Linked DNA regions of Homo sapiens: region 1 is linked to region 2. The links come from fine-mapping of genetic effects on gene expression. Tissue or cell type: whole blood. Region 2 holds a variant in brackets; the other region holds the start of a gene. All regions are shown on one strand. Distances are between the middles of the regions. Region 1 holds the start of PELI1 (pellino E3 ubiquitin protein ligase 1). Region 2 overlaps LOC100507006 (a long non-coding RNA gene).

Region 1 (4,394 bases), 88 kb after region 2:
ATTGTTTCCAGGAAAAGGTTCATGTTCCTTAGCATATTGTGCAAGATTCTTCATTACCTAAGCTGTCTCCCTTACCTTTTTCAGTGTCTCCTCTTGCCACTCCCCCAACTCCATTCTACTGCCAGCAATGCAACTATTTGCTGAACCAAAATACGTTTGGGTCTCACACCTTTAGGTATTTGTGCTTGATGCTCTCCCCAACACCACCCCCAATGCTCTCACCCACCTCTCTCTTCCTCCTCCCCTACCAAAATACACAAACATGTTAATTCCTAGTTATCTCAAGTGATCTTTGAAGCATTTCCTGATTTTGCCCACATCTGTGGGTAGCTTTGCATTTTCCTATTGTAGTACTTCTCAAATTAAGTCTATTTACCTGTCTCCTCCTTTGCATAGTAAGCACTCTGAAAATAAGAATGTTTCTTTTACATTTTTGTATCTCTATTTCTGGGGCTCAAAACAGTGCCTAGCACAAGTAGACACTCAACAAGCATTTTTTGAATGAGTGTATAATTATATAGTCTGTAGATATAAGGATTTCTGATCTTGAGACTCTCTGAAAGCCTTGCTCCAAAAGTGTGTCTGATTCCTAAGCATTAATCTTTTTCTTCCAGGGTGTGGGGTTCTAGGTAGGTGGAGAAGGAAAACAAAAGCGCTCAGGACGCGTTGCCTTTAGCTCTCCGGAGAGCCAGTAATGTGTCCTGCCTTTCTCCACCCTCCTCCCTACCACCTTTCCACACCTGGGTGCCCAAGATGGGTGTAGACTTAGCTGACCAGCCCAACAACATACTCATACCTTGGTTCAGACTTCTCTTATTACCAAACTAAAGTTGGCCAATACACATAAACAATTTTCAACTTGTCTTTTGAACGTATACTTTATGAAATTTGTATGTCTTAAAAATTGTAGGCCTTAAAATGAACGAACCCGGATTCTTTTATAGTAATCAAGTAAAATATAGGGGTCTTAATTCTGTACTTTGCCTTTGCTAATCTTAAAGTTAGATGTGACTAACTGAGCAAAGTAATTAATTACGGGACTTTGATAGTGGTGATATTCCTAAGTTTTATAACCTAATTGTTCAATTACTGGAAACAACTACATTTCGACAAGTCTTAGGTAAAGAAAATTGAATTTAGCCGGAGAAGATTCAATTGAGGGAAGTGAGGGACAGAGGTATTTGTGATTTAGGGTTTGTGGAAGATAAATTACGCAGCAGGGAAGACTGAAATATGGAGAGAAAGTCAGACCTCACTGGGTACTTATGACTGGTAAGGCTAGGAGTTGGAGGTGGAGAAAAGTAGGAAGGACCGTCTAAGGGTTGGATCCCCAACAACACCATAATACAAGACCGTCCTTGTTCAGCCAACAGCAGCACTGAACACGTTCGCTAAGTGTGTCGGTGACCATGGTAACGGTGGGAGGGGGCGGTCCAAACCTCGCCCTCGAGCATGCTCAGTGCAGAGCGAGCCTGGTAGGGTGCTGGACAACAATGAATCCCTTTTTTCTTCAACCGGAGAACTACAATTCCCAAGAGCCTTCTCGGTGCGGCGACACCGCCTTCCGCTGTGGCCCTGCCCGGTCCCCTCCCTCAGGCCCCGCCCCCCGGCTAGACCCCTCCCCTCCTTGCGAGTGTATGTCAGTGACCCAGAGGCGGTGTGAGGCGGAGGGACCGTCGGGGGGCGCCGCCGCCGCCTCCACTAGCAGCAGCGGCAGCAGCCCTAGTCCCGCGGTGCGGTCGAATTGGTCCCCAGCCCTCCGGGAGCGCACCACAAAGCAGCCCCAACGCCTCTCCCTGCGTCCGCGGCTCCTCAGCGCTCGGCTCCGTGGTCAACTTCCCCTCGCTGGGCTCGGCTGGCGGGCGCGGAGGGCAGCGGCGGAACGGCGGGCTGTCTGCTCGCGCTCCCCGCGCACAACACTTCACCCTCTCGCCTCGGGTCTCGGGGGCCGCTCTGGGATCCCGGCCACCAGCAATTGTCCGGTAAGTGTGACCGCGGGGCGCCGCGGGATGGATGGCGGCGGGGCCGCCGAGGGGCGCGGGGAGGGCGGGCGCGCAACTTCCTCGGCGGCTTCCCCGGCGGCCAGCAGCCGGCTCTCCCCGCCCGCCTGCGCGCCCCCGCTGCGGCGGGGAGCGGAGTTTGCGGCGCCTGCATCCCGCGCCCTGGCTCGAGGAAGCGCCTTTGTCAGGAACCGGCCCTACGCGGCCTCCCCCTCCGCCCGGGAGCGGGGCGCGCGGCGGCCAACTCCGAGCCCCGCGCCTGGCTGGCCGCGCGCTCCGGCTGCGAGAGGGGAGCTCTGCGGGTGGCGGGGAGGAGAGGGAAATGGGAGAAACAAAAGGGGCGGTGGGTTTCCCTTTTGTTTGTGCGGATCTGATAACTTCTTTTCCTCCCTTACATAACGCAGACTTCAAGTTAGTCATTCTTTTTATTGTTATGATTGTTGTCATCATCTCTGCGCGTCTTTCACATTTCCTTTCATCTTTGGATCTCAGAGCATTTTAAACACGCTAATTAATTTCACCCCCGGGTCCCCTAGGAAACAAGTTAATACGCCCGTTTCCCTAAGTGGGTAAACTGAGGTCGTGAAAAGCTCTCAAATTGATGGATACGCTTGATCTTCTACCGCGCCTCGTGTCTGAGTATATGAAAGCGTTTATGAGGAAGAACCCGTTCTCCAAAGCCCCGTGGAAAAGTTAAAGATGCTCATTTTACTTACAGGTTAACTGAAGTCCAAAAGATGTCTAGGTAATTGTTACGTAGTTCAAACCATAATTCTTCTTACATAGTGTTTGAATCTTAAAACCTCTAAAGACTTAGTGAAAAATGCTCCGAGTAGGGAAATTAATGTAAATCATAAACTCACGTCACCATCTACTTTTATTTTTGTACGTGCAGGTCTGTTAGAGGCAAGAGAGCAAGAAGGGGACAGAGGGCAGAGGTTTTTTAAAAATGTACATTTAACAGATTTTAATCACTACACACAAGGAAATGTGCCTTGGTTTTAACAGCACCAACAATATTCCTGTCGTTTAGTCATCAAACAGTATATCAACAAATGTTATTGAGAACTTTATTCATAAGGTGCTGGTTGTGCTAAAAACTGAAGCTTTATATATAAGAAAAGGTCATCTGTTTCGGTTCACAGGCTCTTTACTTTTTCTTACTCTGCAAAATGTTACTTTGTTTTCATTGCACATGATCTTTTGTTTCAGAAATGGCATTGTCCTTTACTGTGTCGAATATGTATTACTCTTACACTTAAGGATAAATGAATTTATTATTAAGTTTTCATAATAGGGTGAATTTAAAATATTTTAATTGTGGTAAAGGTTCACTTTATTCAGTTCTGTTTCAGTTTACGATGCGTTTTCTTTATAGCCAACAAAATATTTTCTGAGTGATAAGATTTACATGTCTCAAAACATTGTTCTTAGTGTACAAATACAGCATATGAATTCCTTGTTTTTTTTATTTATACCAACAACCTCTTCTGGGGAAAAGTCTTTAACTCTGAGGACCTTATTTATTTTGTGAGTTTTTATTTCTTCGGTACCATACTGGAAAGCACCAAAAATTTAAACCAAGCATCACTTCTACTAGCTCTTTCCTCAGGTAAATAATAATCAGAACTGTAGTAATAGTGAATAGTTTCACTTACTCTAAATTCTCTTAAATTTAATTTTGTACTATATAGTTGTCCTTACATTTTAGATTTTGGTGGTTGCATCAGAAAATGAAAGTGAGATGTTCGTTATTTTATTTTTTTTCCCAAAGCCTTCTAACCTGTTCCCTTTCTATAGTATGTTAAAAGAGATCTTGAGTTTAAAATAAATAATTGGAAAGTAGAACAGTTATATGTATGGAAAGTTGCATGTAGTGAAGTGGTTATAGTGTCTCATGTAGTGAATGTACAGGTTTTAAAGAGGAAACTATCACCTAGCTTTTTATTAGCATGGTAGAAGTGCTGTAATGTAATAGTAGTAGTATTTATTTGCTTCTAAAAAGTAAGCTGGAAATTTGCCTCAGTGGAATTTGTAGGGGGAGGGAATCCATTCTTTCCTTAAGATTGGCATTTAAATGTTCTTACAGTTGGTTATGTTGAACTTTTTCTGTGGTATTTTCAAGCCAGATTTACCAGGAACATTTGTACTTCAAGGAAGCTACTAACACTGTCTTGGCTCAGTCACTGGAATCCACAGGCAGAAGTTAGTGTTGACTGGCAAAGTCTGGCTTTGCAGGTTTCATAATTTCTTTGAGACCCCTTAAAGGAAATGACTGAAAAGTACGGGGTAGGAAGTTAGTCTAGTACTGCCAAATGCCACTGAGGCAAGTTTCAAAGGGGAAGCCAAAGGATGTTTCCATTTGATTTAAGTTCAGCCTCTTCTGGGTTGTCA
Region 2 (4,394 bases):
AAGTGAGAAGTTGTATAGGAAGAACTCTAAGATGGCACAAGGAAGGGCATGAGCTCTGGAAGCAGGCAGTCCTGGCTTTGAATCTAGCTCTATTACTCACCAGCCATGACCTGAAGCAACTTAACCTCTTCAAGACTCAGTTTCCTCGCCTCTAAAATGAAAATGATAATGACTGTCTCATAGAGTTGATGTGCAAAGTAAAGATGTGATATAAGCCCCTAACATCATGAGTGGTCCAAAATGGGCACTCAGGTACAAAGCCACAAACAAAATGCTAGTTATGACAATGATTCCACTAGGAACAGCAGAGCATCAGTCAGAGGTCGTGTAAAGTTTCCACTGACTTGATGATCTAAAGTAATGAATAAACACAGGAACAGGTCATTCAAACTGCAGATTACAAGGATAGTTTTTTTCAGTATGAGAAAAATGCTGTTTGGTAGCTCACAAGCAGATTTAACTCTGGAGCAGTGCCCTTGACGCAGAGCAGGCTGGGCTTTCTAAATTGTCTGCTCTCTCTCTCTTTCTTTCTCTCTCTGAGCTTCTGATACATAATATTCAGCAAATACACCACATACTGGAGAGTGGTATATCATATACCCTGTGACTGCATTTTACGACAGACTCCCAAGATTGAGGGCAGATGTACTATGCACTTGAATATGCCCAAAGTTTAAGAGTTAAGTTACTTAATGCTACATCCAGTGGCATCATTTGCAACAGAGCTGGCTACCAAAAATGCATTTGGGGATTCTCACTTTCCAACTAAAAACTACATTAAACCAGCACAGTGCATTGGCATTTTATATGAGACTGTAATAGTTGACAACATCCGTATCTCCATATCAAAGAGAAACCATCCCTTTTTCACAAGGACCTTATTTCAAAGGAGTTATACTTCTGAATGAGAGACAGTCCAACGATCTGGACCTAGAATCTCTGAGACTGTAGATGTTGAATAATATTAGTGTTATAAGAACCTCAGTTATTGTTATTGTTATTATTATTATTATTGAGATGGAGTCTCAATCTGTCGCCCAGGCTGGAGTGCAGTGGTACAATCTCAGCTCACTTCCACCTCCACTTCCCAGGTTCAAGCGATTCTCTTGCCTCAGCCTCCCAAGAAGCTGAGATTACAGGCGCACGCCAAGAAGTCCAGCTAATTTTTGTCACGCCAAGACGTCCAGCTAATTTTTGTATGCTTTTGTAGAGATGGGGTTTTGCCATGTTGGCCAGGCTGGTCTTGAACTCCTGGCCTCAAGCAGTCTGCCCACCTTGGCCTCCCAAAGGGCTGGGATTCCAGGTGTGAGCCACCTTGCCCGGCTTGACCTACGCTTTTCTAAGTCCATTTCTCAGTTCTCAGGTCACATCTGAGGTGTGTGTCAGTAGCATCCGACACAGTGATGACTCCCTTTCCTCTGAATTTGTTTCTTTACTTGGCTTCCAGCACAAACCCTTTCTTCATTTTCCTCCTATTCACTAGGCATTCCTTCTTAGACTGCTTCCCTGGTCCAGCCTTTTCTCTCTGACCTCATAATCTTGGAGGGCCCCAGGGCTCAGCCCTCGGGCACCTTTTCTTCCTTATTCACCCTCTTGGTGATCTCACCTGGTTTCATAGCATTAAATCATTAAATATCACCAGAAGCTGCCAA[A/G]TGTGCACCTCCAGCTCAGACTTCTCTCCTGAACTCCAGACCTCTTTTTTTTTTTTTTTTTTTTTTTTGAGATGGAGTCCCACACTGTCACCCAGGCTGGAGTGCAGTGGCACAATCTCGGCTCACTGCAACCTCTGCCTCCAATGTTCAAGTGATTCTCCTGCCTCAGCCTCCCAAGTAGCTGGAATTACAGGCACCTGCCACCACGCCCAGCTAATTTTTGTATTTTTAGTAGAGACGGGGTTTCGCCATGTTGGCCAGCTGGTCTCGAACTCCTGGCCTCAAGTGATCTGCCTGCCTCGGCCTCCCAAAGTGCTGGGATTACAAGTGTGAGCCACCACGCCCGTTTGAACTCCAGACCTTTATCCAGATGCCTGCTTCATGTATCAAACTTAACAAGTCCAAACTTGGACTTCTGTTCTTCCCTTTGAAGCCAGCTCCACTCCCAGTCTGCACTCTCTCAGTCGATGGTGACTCTATTCAAAACCTTTAGAGTCCTTCTGGACTCCTCTTACTTTTTTTTCTTTTCTCACATCCGAATCTTATTGGCTTCCTCTTCAAAATATATCCTGCATCCAACCACTTCTCACTACCTCCACTGCTGCCACTGTGTTCCAATCCATTGTCATCTCTCTCTTGGATTATCACATTCCCTTCCTCACGACAGTCTCACTGTCGCCCAGGCTGGAGTGCAGTGGAGCGATATCGGCTCACTACAACCTCAGTGATCTTCTGATAGCCTTGTAGTATAAAGCAATTCTCTCTCTTGACCCATCATAGCTGTCCAGGTACCATTTAAAGAATAACAACAACAAAAGGTGACCATTTAGACAATTTAAGAATTACATCCAAAAAGCAAACACATGGAGAAAAAAGCAAAACAAAATATAGGCTAGTGAGCACAATTAATTCCAATAGCCGGTTACAAATCCTTGCAACTTTCTCATTCCTTTAGGTTCAGAGAAGTCAGAAGACTTCAGGTTGAGGAAAGCCAGGAATATAAAAGCCAAGGTCAGCTTTTAATTTACCTTTAACATGATCAAAACTAAACTTTTGCCCGGGAGTTTTCTCAGTAACAAAGGTGAGCAATTCCACCTTCAAAGGCATTTTTGGGTCTACTCAACAGCTTCAATTGCAGTATACCCTGTTTTCCTCAAAATTAAGTTTCACATTTGTAAATGTTGATCAATAAACTAGTTCTGCTTTCCCAGGTTTCACGCTCAATTCTGAATGTCCTTAGGGGGACTCTGTGAAATTTATAAGGGCTCTGCTTCTTCTGCCTTCCTTTAAAGGATGGTGTTCCACTAAGATTCACCTTTCCATCTTCCACTCTCTTATCTTAATTTACATACTTTCGCTGGGTAATCTTGCCCACTTCTTCCCCTATGCTCATGACTCTCAACCCTCTACCTATCTCTAGCTCAGACCTCTCTCTTGAGCTTCAGATCCATATATCCCTGGATGTCCCATTCTCAAACACATAGTGCACATACAGAGTTCTTTCTCTCTGCCAAATGTACACCTCTTCCTCCCTTTCTTTTTCCTTACTGGTGCCAAGATTCATCTAATCACTCAGGCCAGAAACCTGAGCATGGTGCTATAAGATCACAGAGGAGAATCCAAGGATAGTAGCAATTTGCTGCAGGGTAGGAATGCAGGGAGGCATTCCAAGTGACATAATGTAACTATAGAGATGCCAAAATAAGAAAAAGCATGGTATGTGTGCTGTTAGGATAGAATAGGACAGGCTGAGGTAACAAATAAAACCCCATAATCTCAGTGGCTTTTGCTCATTAAAAAAATATATATATATGTCTTATGCCAATTGGTCAGCTTTCCTGCAACAGAAATTCAGGACCCAGCCTGCTTCCATTTTACAACCCACTGAGTTAGAGTTTTGCACATCCTAGCATATGGACAAAAGAGAATAAGCATGAAGAACTCAGACCCCCTCTTAGTCTTCCTGAACCAGAATGCCATATCCCTCCACTCACTTTTTTGTTGTCAAAAATTTGGTCAGTGTCCCAACCTAGCTGCAAAAAGAAACTGGGAGATGTCTTCTCATCTGCCTAGGAAGGTGAAATGAGGTAGTGAACATGTAGCATTTTCCCTACTATGACATGTTTAGGAAACCGTAAGAAGACTGGCATACCTGGAAACCAATGGGAATTATGGGTTGGATTGGGGGTGTAATATGTGTTGTGGAGAGAGGGTAGGTAGACAGTGCTAGGAGACACAAGAACGTAGGTACCATGGCCAATATAACTAGAAGGACTGGGTGGAGTCAAGAGCCTGAGTGCCATGCTAAGAATAGCATGCCAGTTCAATGGGAGTTTAAAGATGGGAAGTGAGCAAAGACAGGGAGAGGTGGTCAGTGGAGAATCCTAGAGCTCAAACTTCTCAACCTGAGAGCCCCAAGTAAAGGACCAGCTCTTGCTCCAGGACCAGCCTGAGGTTCCAATTGCTTTAAGAATCCATCGAGTGCAGACCAGGATATGAGACTCTGACCTAAAAACAAACTAAAAAGTTCTGTGTTCATTACCTCTGGACATTGTGTGATCCTTCCTCTAATGGCTTGGCTCCCAAAACCTCCCCACTGGCGCTCCCCTCTCAGCTGCATCCCAATTCCCTCCGCTGCACCCCAATTCCCTCCGCTGCACCCCAATTCCCTCCGCTGCACCCCAATTCCCTCCGCTGCATCCCATCTCCCTCCGCAGGCTCACCTCCCTTTTCTCTCCGGGT

The links. PIP is the estimated chance that this variant, and not a neighbour inherited with it, causes the effect.
Region 1: PELI1 starts here. The variant in region 2 is the best candidate, but not a certain one, in a credible set for the expression of PELI1 in whole blood (Lepik 2017, PIP 0.53).

What each region holds. Positions count from the first base shown.
Region 1 is chr2:64,141,669-64,146,062 of GRCh38, reverse strand. It overlaps PELI1 (pellino E3 ubiquitin protein ligase 1), which reads left to right and starts at 1,643. Exons shown (of 7, transcript NM_020651.4): 1 at 1,643-1,982. RefSeq lists silencers at 1,416-1,475, 1,566-1,755, 1,836-1,905, 2,046-2,115, 2,126-2,195.
Region 2 is chr2:64,229,622-64,234,015 of GRCh38, reverse strand. LOC100507006 (a long non-coding RNA gene) reads right to left here. Exons shown (of 5, transcript NR_120420.1): 2 at 4,376-4,394. Among named protein-coding and RNA genes, the nearest start is that of LINC00309, 26 kb to the right of the region's middle. The variant A/G (reference allele first, on the strand shown) is at 1,653.